Linked DNA regions of Homo sapiens. The protein of the gene in region 4 purifies or fractionates together with the protein of the main gene of each other region. This does not show direct contact. Each region holds a gene or a part of one and is shown on either strand. Other genes may lie near its edges. The genes, in order: BRD1, KAT7, ING5 and MIS18BP1.

What was found.
Region 1: the proteins of MIS18BP1 (region 4) and BRD1 purify together in Homo sapiens (affinity purification with western blotting, with the first as the bait; one study listed by BioGRID). This does not show direct contact.
Region 2: the proteins of MIS18BP1 (region 4) and KAT7 purify together in Homo sapiens (affinity purification with western blotting; one study listed by BioGRID). This does not show direct contact.
Region 3: the proteins of MIS18BP1 (region 4) and ING5 purify together in Homo sapiens (affinity purification with western blotting, with the first as the bait; one study listed by BioGRID). This does not show direct contact.

Annotation. Positions count from the first base shown.
Region 1 is NC_000022.11:49,782,827-49,786,415, reverse strand, and holds part of BRD1 (bromodomain-containing protein 1), read left to right. Parts: intron 1-2,436; coding exon of another isoform or gene 2,437-2,487; exon of another isoform or gene 2,488-3,589. UniProt on the Homo sapiens protein: Scaffold subunit of various histone acetyltransferase (HAT) complexes, such as the MOZ/MORF and HBO1 complexes, that acts as a regulator of hematopoiesis.
Region 2 is NC_000017.11:49,791,681-49,795,180, forward strand, and holds part of KAT7 (histone acetyltransferase KAT7), read left to right. Parts: intron 1-205; coding exon 206-353; intron 354-3,500. UniProt on the Homo sapiens protein: Catalytic subunit of histone acetyltransferase HBO1 complexes, which specifically mediate acetylation of histone H3 at 'Lys-14' (H3K14ac), thereby regulating various processes, such as gene transcription, protein ubiquitination, immune regulation, stem cell pluripotent and self-renewal maintenance and embryonic development.
Region 3 is NC_000002.12:241,719,036-241,722,624, reverse strand, and holds part of ING5 (inhibitor of growth protein 5), read right to left. Parts: intron 3,143-3,589; coding exon of another isoform or gene 3,004-3,142; exon of another isoform or gene 2,650-3,003; coding exon of another isoform or gene 2,503-2,649; exon of another isoform or gene 818-2,502; intron 1-817. UniProt on the Homo sapiens protein: Component of the HBO1 complex, which specifically mediates acetylation of histone H3 at 'Lys-14' (H3K14ac) and, to a lower extent, acetylation of histone H4. Component of the MOZ/MORF complex which has a histone H3 acetyltransferase activity.
Region 4 is NC_000014.9:45,225,692-45,229,280, forward strand, and holds part of MIS18BP1 (mis18-binding protein 1), read right to left. Parts: intron 2,124-3,589; coding exon 1,972-2,123; intron 1,146-1,971; coding exon 1,052-1,145; intron 1-1,051. UniProt on the Homo sapiens protein: Required for recruitment of CENPA to centromeres and normal chromosome segregation during mitosis.

The DNA.
Region 1 (3,589 bases), on a different chromosome or scaffold from region 4:
CTGTGCTGGGAGCACTTTGAGGAGGCCGCTGTGTTCCTGCAGCCTCTGCTCCCCGCCCCTCAGAGGAAGCTGAGGAGTTTGTCCTTTAAAGAGGAGCAGCTGTCATCGGTTTGCTTCTTCGGTACTGGCTGCGCTTCTGGAGGTGCCGGCTCAGGTTGCCAGCGACTCTTTTCTGGAAGCGTGTCTGGAGCATGTTTGTCATTTTGGTTTTTGTCCCGAGTCAAGGCTTGGTTCCCGTCTGTCCTGTCTGCCTGTTATACCTAGATAAGGAGATGCGCATTTTCTCCTGGCTGTGCTGGTGTGCCGTGGTGCCTCGTGCACTTGAGCAGTGAGAGAGGGTGGGGCTGGGTGGGTGTTGCTTATTTCCCAGAGTGGCAGCAAGTGAGTCCTGTGTCATGGAGCCTCACCAGGCCGGGTGCAGATGGAAGGCTGTGGTGGGCAAGACCTGCCCAGGCCACTCCCTCACATCTTGTCCCTGTTCCTTCTGCTGGTCTCTGGCCTGAAGCGTCCGGGGAGGGGAGTGAGACCAGGCACTGTCAAAGGTCTTTGTGCAGAAGGAGGCTCACTTCCTACCCTTGCCAGCAAGCAGGTCATGCGTCTTGTTGCCAAAGTAATTTCTGGTAAATTTCATTTTGATTTGTATGAAAATTTTGCACGTAACTGAATGTGTAGAAATTTTCTACCCATGTCCTTTTACTTTGATGGATTGATGTTAAATTGGCATTTTAAAATAATTTGAAAAAGCTTTTTTGCTTTCTAAGTAATAGGAAGCTATTGAAATGTTTCACAAGATACCAATAAGAATAGATGTCCTTGACTCAGGACTGGGGGATGTGTCTTAACCACGTTGGTCTTTCTTAGCCACCTTTGGTGAAAGACTCTGACCTGGTTTTCCAAGCACCCCGGAAATTCTGTGATGAATCGGGTCAGGGTGCTGTGCACTGGGTACTAGAGGTTGGGTCAGTGTAATTGTGGGCGTCCCCTCTGCATGCAGAACTTGGAGTTCGGCTGACGCTCCACTTCCTCGGGGTTTCACGTCTGTCGGCGGCAGAGGTATGGGGCTGCGTGCGTGGAGGCCCTGCCGGCCGTGGGGCTGGGGTTTGAGGCGGCCTCCCGTCGACACTCAGCAGGATGCTCACGTGGTGGTTTCCACCAGGTGGCCCCACCTGACCGGGCCCTGCCCCAGCTGTGGGCTCCCACTGTGGACAGTTTTGCCGGCTGGCGGCCACGTCCTCAGCAACCTCTCAGGCTCGTTCATCAGATGTCCCTTGTAGAAGAGCACGTGTCCCCTCCGGGCCACTGTCTTACATTGGAGTGGAGTGTTTTGCGGGCTTCCCGTGGTGACGGTGGTGTAGAGCAGTCTTACTGCAGACCTTCAGTGAGCGTGGCCCATGGTGGCTTTTGAGAATCATGGTGCCCTCTGATCCTGACTGAAGTGGAGATTTCTGCTCTCTCATTTCCGAGTGACAGTGGATTTCCGTGGAGGTGCGGTGAGTTCCTGAGCTCTCTCCTGAGCAGCCGGGAGCCTCAGCAGCATTAAGACCAGGCCCTCGGGAGTGGGAGGCATTCCACTGCTGTGGCCGAGGCGCCCGGGGAAGGGCTGGGCGTGCTCTGAATGGTGCCAGTCCCGCCATCCGCCCTCGCTTTGGTTTCACCGGAACCTTCTGGTGCTCTGCACATGGGGGATTTCTTGCCCAGAGCTGCAGTTCTTCGCAGTCTTAGGACAGGAATTATCCGGAACCTTCTGATGTTTTCCATACATGCATCTGTGTGCTCTGAACTTTAGGGAGTTATCTGGCATTTTCCAGCACACGCACAATTCTGAGTTAGGCTGAACAGGGTCGCTGGTCCTGAGGCGACGCACTCACTGTGGGCCTCCTGCCCGTGTCGCCCGCGGGCCGGCTGTGCTGTGCGCCAGGCTTCTGTTCCTGCGATGGCCCAGCCCCAGAGTCTGGCCCTGACTCGTGGCTTCCTTCCTCCGTGACTGCACGCTCACCAGCAGTGAACCGTCACCTGAAGCGGCCTTCCACTCGCCGCCGTTGCGGAGACCCCTGCTGCGAGTCTCTGTGTGCACGTGCTGGGGCGTGTGAGAGCGTGGGGGTGTCTTTGTCTACTCGCCGCCGTTGCGGAGACCCCTGCCGCGAGTCTCCCTGTGCACGTGCTGGGGCGTGAGAGCGCGGGGGTGTCTTTGTCCACTCACCGCCGTTGCGGAGACCCCTGCTGCGAGTCTCTGTGTGCATGTGCTGGGGCTTGAGAGTGTGGGGATGTCTTTGTCCACTCGCTGCCGTTGCGGAGACCCCTGTTGCGAGTCTCCATGTGCACGTGCTGGGGCGTGAGAGCGCGGGGGTGTCTTCAGTGTCCTTCGGCTGTTCAGGGAGGAGGCTGAGCTGTCCTGCCCTTTCATTCAGACTAAATGGCTTTTTCACTGTTTTCCAGGTTCTCACTTTAACCACTAATGTGCTGGGTAGTTCACTCTTTGGACCCTAATCATTTTCTCTTACCTCAACTTGGACTGGAGTTCTGCTAAGCGGCCGTTTTGGAATGCACAAAGATCACTGCATCTTGCCTTTCACTTAATTCTTGCGGATCACATTGGAATCATCAGCTCAAACATCCTCTAGACAAAATCACAAACAGCAGCCCTGGAGGAGCTCTCCCCCACCCCAGCCCACCCCCTCTGTAAGTCAGAGCCCGGCAGTGGGAATGGTGCTGGCGCCCGGTGCACGCCTGGAGCTGGCGGGATGTCGTGGCACCTCAGCCTTCCCTCTGGACAGTCACGAAGGACGCAGAGGAGAGCCCGGCACCGACTGGGAGCCTGCTGCAGCTGACGACACAGTGGACAGCATTCTGAGGCTGTCCTGAGCATGTGCGGAGCCGTCCCATAGTGACTGGTGGTTTGGGTGTGACGGCCATGCCCAGGCGCGTTGTGCTGTGTCTGTGCCATGGGGTATGGAGGAACTTGGCTCGGCACTGTCTGAGGATGTGGCATGGACAGTGCGTGCTCACTCACTCGCTAGCATCTTCTGTATTTCTGGGTTTTCTACCTGATTTCCTTCTCCCCTTACTTCCCCTTCCTCTGTTTTTTCCCCACAATGCCCAGTGGATTCTTGAGCAGTGCTGCTGTTTGTCTCTTGCTGGTCACCACGCTGAGTGCCCCTGCGGCCAACTGAGAAGTCCTGCTCGTGGGGTGGGGCATCTGTGCGTGGGATCTTGTGCAGGCGTCTGTCCTGGGCCTTGGGTCTGTCTCTGACCATCCCAGCTGCATTGTCATGGAGCTGGGTCCCAGCAAGAGCAGGTCTCGTGCAGGCGTCTGGCCTGGGCCTTGGTTCTGTCTCTGACCATCCCAGCTGCATTGTCACGGAGCGAGTCCCAGCACGATGGGCCTTGGGTCTGTCTCTGACCGTCCCAGCTGCATTGTCATGGAGCAGGTCCCAGCAAGATGGGCTTTGGGTCTGTCTCTGACTGTCCCCAGCGGCATTGTCACAGAGCAAGTCTTGTGCAGGCATCTGGCCTGGGCCTTGGGTCTGTCTCTGACCATCCCAGCTGCATTGTCGCGGAGCGGGTCCCAGCACGATGGGCCTTGGGTCTG
Region 2 (3,500 bases), on a different chromosome or scaffold from region 4:
TTCCCTATTTGTAGGTTGTTCCATTTAAGTGTTCTAAATAAAGTGAAGTTGCCTGAGGGGGTGGGAGGATGAGAAATGCTTGTGGAATCCTTATTTAGGTTTGAACTTGGGGTTTTCAGTGTCACAGCTTGTTTTATTTTCAATGTTAATGCAAACTCTCAGACCAAATGCTTCTGTGCTAATATCTGGATCTATGGTATTACAGAGGAATGCAGGCAGTAGTTCAGATGGAACCGAAGATTCCGATTTTTCTACAGATCTCGAGCACACAGACAGTTCAGAAAGTGATGGCACATCCCGACGATCTGCTCGAGTCACCCGCTCCTCAGCCAGGCTAAGCCAGAGTTCTCAAGGTAAAAAAACCTTCATTTTTCCTTACCACTCCTCACATCTGGCTGACTGGCCCATCACATTATTTTCCTAGTTAATGTGGAAACTGGCCCCTTGGCTTGGTGTAGATGACAGTGCACCAGATGATTGGTAAAATGTAGAGTGAATGCAGAGTTGTCAGGTCTTTAACAATGCCTCTGTGGGGGGCTACTATCCAATCTGTAGACCCAAAGGAACTGCGGATGGTATAATGGATAGAGACACACGTATGTCTTGAGTCATTTGTTTGTTTGTTTGTTTGTTTTTTTAGATCGCAGTGTCTCCATCAGTAAAATTGGAATGTTATCCCTTCACTTTCTGTTTGAATGTTTGAGGCTTAGGGACTTGAAGTCCAGATGGTATCTGATTTATGGTGGCTTGATTTAATTTTTTTTTTTAACTTTACAGTGGTGCTAAAACAATATGCATTCAGTGGAAACTTTTAGAATTTTGAATTTCGGTCTTTTCCTGGGCCAGTGATATGTGGGCCAAATATTTTCTCATGTTGCTGAGTGGTGGCAATGAGCCATAATAACTCCAGTCAGTGAGCCGTAACTCCCAGTCAGCCATTTGATCATGAGGGTAAACCAGTACTCTTCAGTGTACTGTCTTTAATAAATTATATGCAATATTCAACACTTTATTAAAAATAGGCTTTGTGTTAGATGATTGTGCACAATTGTAGGCTAATGTAAGTGGTTTGAGCCTATTTAAAGTAGGCTAGGCTAAGCTATGATGCTCGGTAGGTTAGGTGTATAGCGGTTTTTTTTATTTTCTGGAGACAGGGTCTTGTGCTCTGTTGCACAGGTTGGAGTGCAGTGGTGTGATCTTGGCTCACTGCAGCCTTGACCTCCTTGGCTCAAGTGATCCTCCCACCTCAGCCTCCTGAGTAGCTGGGACTACAGGTGCACGCCACCATGCCTAGCTAGTTTTCTTTGTTTTTTGTAGAGATGAGGTCTTATTATGTTGTCTAGGCTGGTCTCAAACTCCTGGACTCAAGCAGTCCTTCCACCTTGGCCTCCCAAAGTACTGGGGTTATAGATGTGAGCCACCATGTTCAGCCTGTAAATGCATTTTTAACTTATAATACTTTCAACTTATGATAGTTTTATTGAGACTTAACCCCATTACAAGTCAAGGAGCATCTGTAGTCTCTTGGACTTACTCTTGGCAGAGGCCCACTTCTAAAACCATGTTTAACTCTGGAATGTAATCCAATAAACACTTGATAGATATTAATAGTTGTACCAAAATATCAGTGTGGAAATAATGGAATTTTGCTTTGGTAATAAGGAATTGAGAATCTTGGGGTTGGAAGGTAGTTTGAACTATCTCTAGTGCATTTAGGCATCTGGGGTTAGATTTGGAGGGTACCCTTGACCCTCCTGGCTCTGCTCTGGTATTCCCTGAGGAGGAAAGAAGGTTGCAGCTAATACAGAAAGCCGATGATCAACAGGTGATAATAGATGAAGGGAAAAAAACTTTAACATGTTTTGAGCACTTCAACAGTGTTGCTTTGGTTAATTTTTTTTTTTTTTTTTTTTGAGATGGAGTCTAGCTCTGTTGCCAGGCGGAGTGCAGTGGCATGATCTTGGTTCACTGCAACTTCCGCCTCCTGGGTTCAAGCAATTCTCCTGCCTCAGCCTGCAAGTAGCTGGGACTACAGGTGCACGCCACCGTGCCCAGCTAATTTTTGTATTTTTAGTAGAGATGGGGTTTCACCATGTTGGCCAGGATAGTCTCAATCTCTTGACCTCATGGTCTGCCTGCCTTGGCCTCCCAAAGTGCTTGGATTATAGGCATGAGCCACCGCGCCCTGCTGCTTTGGTCACTTTTATATGAGTATGTTGCACAATGAGAGAAAAACCATCAGTTTTTCAAGCAAGAAAGTGGGAATATCCTCTTTAACAACTGTTCCTAACTTTATTTTTGAATTTAGGATTTCAGCTAAAGTATTGCTATTGTCTCTTGATTTCTTAAGCTTTAAATTTTTACCACAATGAGACTATGGATAAATAGCTACTATAACTCAAGCAGTATGTTATGTACTAGGAACCATGATAGAAAAATCATAGTTCCTGTCCTCAAAGATCTTACAGTTCAGTGCAAGATACAGATATGAAAATTGATCATGGGAATACATTATGGCAAGGGCTGTGAGAGGGGTTTGCATAGAGTACTACATAAGCCCAGAGGTGGGACAGCCAACTTAGGGCAGCACTCCCACAATGATGAAGTCTTTTTTGTTGTTGTTGAGACAGAATCTCGCTCTGTCGCCCAGGCTGGAGTGCAGTGGCATGATCTTGGTTCACTGCAGCTTCCGCCTCCTGGGTTCAAGGAATTCTCCTGCCCCAGCCTCCCAAGTAGCTGGGATTACAGGCGAGCACCACCATACCTGGCTATTTTTTGTATTTTTAGTAGAGACAGGGTTTCACCGTGTTGTCCAGGCTTGTCTTAAACTCCTGATCTCAAGTGATCTGCCCGCCTCGGCCTCCCAAAGTGCTGGGATTACAGGCGTGAGCCGCCGTGCCCAGCTGCACACTGAGATGTCTTAAAGGCTCTGATAGGAATTTACAAGTTGAAAGATGGGAATATGTTATTCTCGGCAGATGGAACAGCATATGCTAAGGAAAAGACATAATGTTTGTAGGAAGTATAATTGACCATGCCCTAGACACCTGAAAACTAAATATTCAAAACAGCTAGGAAATGCGTAAGCACTGAGTCTCTTTCTGGTTATCATACCTCATGACCACAGAGTTGCACAACTCCAGGGGTACCATTTACAATGTCAGCAATGTAAGGTGGTCCTCCCTAGAGCACAAGGTAGATCATATTGTGAAAGGAGGCCCCTTGGAGATGTACAAATGGATAACCTTGCTCTGTGCTAACTTTTCTCACCCGAAAGTTTGGAAATTTTCAGTTTTCTTCTTTAGAGAATCTATAAGATTTCTTCAGATTTTTTTTTTTTTTAAATATACGTTGGGGGGTGCAGCCGTGAGAGAGTGAGGCTGACACCGCGCCCTGGCCTGTGCATCCCGCCCTCTGAAAAAAAAATTAATTAATTAAAATAAAATATACTTTAGAGAGGATTTTGACTGTTCTCACCACAAAGAAATGACAAGTGTTTG
Region 3 (3,589 bases), on a different chromosome or scaffold from region 4:
AACACGCAATGTTCTAAGAAGGCGCAGCAAGAAAATCATTAAGTATACGAACAGATTGTCAGCTGATGCTAGAAAGAACAGTTACCCACAAAAATCCAGGAACAGCAGCAGCTGGCAGCAGAGGGGTGGAGACCTCGCGCCCACCTTCGGGCCCAGGCAGGGGCATGGGGGCACAGAGGGCCCCCAGGAGGCCGTGAAGCGCAGCACTCACCCACAGCACCGGGGTTCTGGTCCCACTCTGGGGACGAGTCCACTCTCATCTCGGTCCCTCCTCCCAGACAGGACTCCCCCGGGGACCTCTGGACTCAACCCACTTCTGGGCCATCCCTCCAAAGACCCCGGCCCCTTTGGAAACAAGCACACGTCACCTCTGCCAGCAGACGGCTGACACCTGAGAGAAGCCTGCCAGCCTCCCACTCCAGACTGACAGGTGTCAGAGCAGCCCGCACAGTCAACAGCTCTCCCGTAACTGTGACCTCCTCCCAAGAGAACAGCCATGCGTCCTGCGCCCGGGCCCTCCACGCACCTACTCAGGCACCTCTGCCCCAATACTGACTCAACCAGCAGCTCCCCACACACTCCCTGGACCGCCCACCACCCACCCAGCTGTCCACCTGGCACAGGGCCCCTTCCGACCACACACCATCCTTGTCACTCCTTCATCCCCATCAGCTCCCACGTGGGTTTCTACACAGCAGCCTGGCAGGTGTTCCACCCCGTCTATGCCTCCCTCCAAGCCTGCCACCTGTAGCACCATGGCCGTCCCACCAGGACCACAGACCTCAGGTGGAGACTTTCCTGTTTGAAAGGGATGCACTTAGGGGGAAATTTACGCTTTTATATTTCAGTATTTTTCAAATAAACTTACAAGCTGCAGGTACTATAGACAGTGTATTCCCATTAGTACAGAAAGAAAAAGTATCTTCCCTATCCCACCCTCCAACCCACGAATATCTAGTTGGTATGTAAACACAGCAGGTTAGCAGGAGGAACGTGGCCGTGAGAAAAACAGTCACGATCAGGGAAAGCCAAGGAGCAGAAGTCTGGGTCCCAGAGGGAATCAACACTCAGCTTTTCCTTGGATACCTGTCTAAAGCTTTTCTACGCCTTTGCAATTGCCTGTACACATACACACACACTCGGGCTCAGCATGCACCCGGCCTCCCCGCTGCCCTCTGGCACAGGGGCGCCCACCTAAGTCTGTCCTTTGCAGGTAATCTGCTCTTCTGCTCTTTCTCTCTGTCTGGGAATAGACAGGGGTTTCTCTTTAGAGCTGAAATCCATCAGCGTCACAAGTCCAGGTCCAGGTGCTGCCGACACTGCTTTCAAGCAACAGTCTCAAGTAGTCTTCGGGTCTCTCCTCTGACAGCAGCACGCAAGGGTCTACGTCTCAGCCTCCTGCCGATTCCGGGATGCCACCTGTGGCTTCACCTCCAAGGGGCTCCTGCGGTCTCCTCGAGTCACCTCTCACCCGCGGAGAGCAGGGCAGCACCCTCTGCTGCCAACCGTCCCCGAAACGCTGACGCCCTCCTCTTCTGCGCCGAGTCCAATTCTGTCCACAAAGCCCGACCTGACATCTTGAGCTGCCACTTGACCTGTGTCTCAGCATCACCAGGTTCGAGGGCGCTGGCCAGATTTGATGGCTGTGGGAGAGGGCCGGGGGCCTGAGGGGACCGCCCAGCAAGGGCACCCCAGAAGCTGAGGCCACCGTGCAGGCCTCACTGGCCTCTCAGTCTCGCCTGAGGGAGCGCCATGGCGTGTGGCCAGGGAGTGCTGCTATCAGCCCTGAGGGAGGCAACCAGGAGGCCATGGGGAGCCCTGTCCCTTGCACAGGCCAGGGTGACCCCAACTGTCAGCGGCTGCTGACTCCCTTCAGCACCACTGCCACAAGAGGCACCCTCTGTGCTAACTCCCCAGGGTGTGGCAGGCACCCCTCGCCAGACGGTGCCAGCGAGCCCTTCCGCGCCCGGCCCCGATGGCTTCCCAGCACTCCACGTGGCTCCTAGCAGGGGGCTGGCTGCCTGTCCAAGCCCCGGGATTCCAGGTGCTACAGGTGACACTGCCCTTCATCCACACACACAGGTTCTGCCTCGCCAGAGCAAGGCCACAGGGCAGCAACAGTGCAGGGGGCAGCCTCAGGTCACGGGATCTCAGACGAGACACGGAGCATCTGTGCAGTCTAGGAACACTGCATTCCAGGAAGAGCCCCGGGCACGTGGGGAACAGGCCTGAAGAGGGCAGTCCACAGGGACAGGATGGTGCGTGCGCCTGGGTCCCCAGCAGGGAACAGGACCTGCCTTGAGGCAGAGCGGCCTGGCACCACAGCGTGACCACGAGGGGCGTGAATACCCACTGTGCTGATGGGTCAGGGACGCGCACCACAGAACTCCAGAGCCCAGGGGCAGGCGGGCTCCTGCACACACCCAGGATGATGCCCTTGGAGGCACCCGAGTGCACACTCCCGCCCCGGCAGGCCAGGCTTTGGGTCCAACCGACTGGTCCTCAGGATGACCCGTCTGCCCACCTGCACCATCCTCCTGTCCCTCTGGAAGGGGCCTCCTTGGCGCCTTGGACGTCAGAGCCCAGCTTCAGAGCTGGCCTTACCAGCCTGTCTCGACGTCTTGCAATGGGACAGGAGCAGCACTGCCACTTGGGGGCACAGAGAAGAAAGAGATTCACACACAAGCTAGATCCAGAGCCGCAGGGCCCCGCAACTGTCGCCATCGGTGATCACCCTTCTCATCTGTCACTACTGGGACCTGCACGGCAGGCAGCGCTGAGCTCCCAGGCTCCGCATTGCTACTAAACAGTGCTGGTCAGCGCACTGTCAGGACAGGAAAAGCCATGAGGCCACAGTGGATCTTCCTGTGTTTGCAGAGGTGCTGGCTGTTCCTGAGGTCTCTGAAGCTGGGCAGAGCCCTCAGGGAGGAAGCCCCGACCCCAACAGGGAGCTGGAGTCTCCTTCACCCCCACGAGGACCCCCAGTGCCTGCATTCCTTATGCCTAGCATACCCTTGAGAAACAGCACTGGGTGAGGAAGAGACCAGGAGGAGTCCCACTTTCACGCAGAAAAGGCACGGTCGGGACAGGGCCTTCAGGTTCCGAGCAGGAAGGAGCAGGAAGACTCAGAACGCTGTTGCCACTGAGTTAGAAAACACAAAACCCAGCAAGTCACAAAAACCACATTCTCAAAGATGTCGGGGAGCTGTGGAGCAACAAGAGCTAGATGACCTGCAGCCAGAGTGGGGGGTGTTGGGGGGTTGGGGGCGGCGTCCGCCTGCCTCATGCACTGAGTGAGGGCTGGGCTGGCCACTGGGCCACGCTGAGCCCACACAGCCACACATGGCGGCCGCGTCCCCACCGACATTTATAGTCCAGAGGCTGCACAGAGCAACTAAAAGCAGAGGGAAAATCCCTGCAACCTCGGAGTTCTCGAGCAAGGGGTCTGCTCGGGCACCGCTGGTCTCCTCCCCCGCACTTCTACCAACTGTGGAAGCCGCTGGGGCAGGAGGCGAGAGAGGAAACCTCAAGGTCCTCAAGGGGCCTCGGTGGAGCTGAAGCTGAGACCCTGCCCCGCCCCAGGCCCCCA
Region 4 (3,589 bases):
AAAGAAAGCAAATTAAAATGAGAACAATTCACCAATTCAAAACCTAAGTAATGAGAAGTCAAACTAACTGAAACTATCCAACTGTAATTAGAAATACATATAAACTGCAAATCATCCCACTGTCATAGAAACATATTACAACCACCTCCACATATTATGTGCCATTGTTTACAAGATGACTGACAGAATGAGACTGATAGATAATATTGAATGCTGGGGAGAAAAGAAGCCTCTAAATTACAATCCGTGGAAAAAGGTAATAATCAAAATAATTTAGAAAGTGTCTACAAGATTTTCCACTGGCATCATATATCTTCAAATTATGAGAAAAGTATTTTCTTCTAACTCCTCATATAAATCCAATTCAAATGTTTACCTGGGAATTTGAAAATTTTCAACATTATAATTTTGAACAATATTTCCATTCAGAGTATTTGTTAATTTTAATAAATTATTTAATAAAGATCCAGCTATCTTGGATACTTAAACCGAATATGAACTCGGAAGTATAAGTAGCACTGCTTTCCTATCTTCTTCAAACAAATAAATGTTCTTCACTTTCACTTCTTTTCACTTATAAGAGGAAATAAAACACAAAAAAATGCTATAAAGCTAATGGATTTAGCTCAACATGAAATTGTAAACTTGCTAACATTTAGACGAAAGCCTCTAAATTATGGCATGCAGGATTCCAATTAAATCACTCTGAAAATCCACACTTAAAACTAAATTATTGTACTAAATTCATAAAAGGATTCACTCTTTACACATTCCTGTAAGCATATGTTAAATGATATATAGTTTTGTGATCTAAACAAATATTTTAGTACCCAGATTAAAGAAGGCAAACCTGTAAGTATAGGTGGTTTTTAAAAGGGCTATTTTATTATGAAAATCATCTTATGTAAAAATAACAAAACCAAACATTTAAAAACATTAAATAATTTGCCATTTTACATGAGGAAATTTACAAGATCACTTTTATCATATTAAAAACATTTCACATAGTAGCTTTCTGCTTATGATTAAAAAACCATTAAAGATATATTACCTTGCTTCTGACTTTTTATTATCCTTTCATTTGTTCTTTCACCAATTTTTAGTTTCTTTGAAGACATTTTATATTCTTTTTTTCCAATTAATTCCTTCAAAACAAAAAGATACCTAGGTTTTATTTTAAAACTACTACCAAAACATGATCTGAAGCATTTTCATAGTATGCATCAAGCATACAAATTTCTAGGTACTTACAGTTCCGCAAATTTCATTAGTGGACACATTCCGAAACTTACTTGCCAGACCTTGAGCACTACGAGCAACATCTGGGAATCCATTATCCTACATATTTTCTACATTAATTTAATACTTTGTGGTTTTTCAAGTGCTTTTAAAAATATGCTTTATTTAAGCTTTACTCTAAAAGCTAAAACTTTTATTGTTGCCTGCATTTTTTCATTGAGAGACAGGGAAAATAAATATCAAGACATTCAGTCCCCAAGTAAATGAAAAGCTGATACTTGAAAAACAGAACTCTTGGCTGGGCGCAGTGGCTCACGACTGTAATCCCAGCACTTTGGGAGGCAGAGGTGGGTGAATCACAAGGTCAGGAGTTCGAGACCAGCCTGGCCAATATGGTGAAACCCCGTTACTACTAAAAATACAAAAATTAGCCAGGCGTGGTGGTGCATGCCTGTAGTCCCAGCTACTCGGGAAGCTGAGGCAGGAGAATCACTCGAACCCAGGAGGTGGAGGTTGAGGCAGGAGAATCACTTGAACCCAGGAGGCAGAGGGTGCAATAAGCCGAGATCACGCCACTGCACTCCAGCCTGGGCAATAGAGGGAGACTCCATCTCAAAAGAAAAAAAAAAAAAAAACAGAACTCACGTCCCTGATATGGTCCCAAACCTTTTCAGTAGTAAATCACCCTTCTAAATATCAACTTGAACTATACAGTGTACAATAAAGCCTTACCTGATTAGATAAGTCATCTCCTCCTCCATTTTGAATAGTATTATTTACTTGGTCATCTGGGAACCTTAATGTTGGTTTATTTTGGCAATTACTGTGGCACATGTTTAATTCTGTAGCTCCTGGTGACTCACTGTGCTTATTACTCTTCAGTTCTATGAATACAAAGATGGAGATTTCAATAAATGGTTATATAAAAGAGAAGCTGCTTTTCTACATGAAGAATTAACTTTGACGCTAGGTGTGGTGGCTCACGCCTGTAATCCCAGCACTCTGGGAGGCCGAGGGAGGAGGATTGCTTGAGCCCAGGAGTTCAAGACTAGCCTAGGCAAAATAGTGATACACTGATTCTACAAAGAATAAAAGGTTGGTGCAAGCCTATGGTCCCAGATACTTGGGAGCCTGAGGTGGGAGGATCACTTGAGCCAGGGAGGTCGAGGCTGCAGTGAGCCGTGATTGTGCCACTGTACTCCAGCCTGGGTGACAGAGCAACACCCTGTCTCAGAAATAATAATGATAATCTGTCTAATCCCTCTGTCATAAATATTTGTTATAATTTGACTAGGATATAAAGCAATTTTATTTGGAAAGAATCACTCTGTATAGCGCTACGCTACATTTTGTTTGAATCACTTTTTTTCCTTCAAAAAAAATTTAAAAAGCCTAGACAGCCATATTATTCACGACCATCTGTTTTGGATCTCCTTTGTCACATCTAAAGACAGAATAGTAAGGTTAATCCATTTTGTAAATAAAAATTCCTGTTCATCCTAACTGCACATCAACTAAATAGAAAGCTAATAACTGTTCTTCTTCTATTTCTTCATGTATGTAGAATTATGTTTCAACTAGTTTATGTACTCCAATGTATAACTAAATTTCTGTAATTAAAATTTTGAGCAAAACTAAATTATACAGTATATAATATATGCTCAACAAACAGTTACTAAGCTGGAATTCTAGGTAAGTTAAAACAGATTCATAAAAAGTATAAAAACATTTTGTTATTTTTCTAGAAGCTATTCTTTAAAGATGTACTGACTAGTCCTTGCTCTTGAAAATATTACCATATAATGAAGGAAGCTTCTATTATGATAGGTCATTTATCATATACTCTGGTAAGTGTAATAACAGAGATAAAGTGCTTTAAGAGCAATACTATGATACACAAGTACTTTTTAGGCAAATCATTAAAACACATACATAAAATTACATTATCTTAAATTAACATGGGTTGGTACCTTTACATAACCTTAGCTATATAATGTTAGATGTGGTTTTGTTTTTTTCATGCAAAGTGCAATGATAATAATAAAATTAATAACAGCCCCAACCACCACTCAAAATAACTTACGTGATATGAAGATAGTGTCTAACAGTTTCATTAAGAAAAGATCTAATGAATTACACTAGAAAAATGATGCAATCATAACAGAATATATTAATATTTGCCCCTAAACCAAGATCCCTGGGGGTGGGGGTGGGGGGAATCATGCCTTATTCATCTCTAAGTTCCTAAAACTTAATAGACCAGGGTTCATGGAAAGCACTTTAAAAATGTTGACACCAGGTGCCATGTTTCATGTCTATAATCCCAGCACTTTGGGAGGCCAAGGTGGGA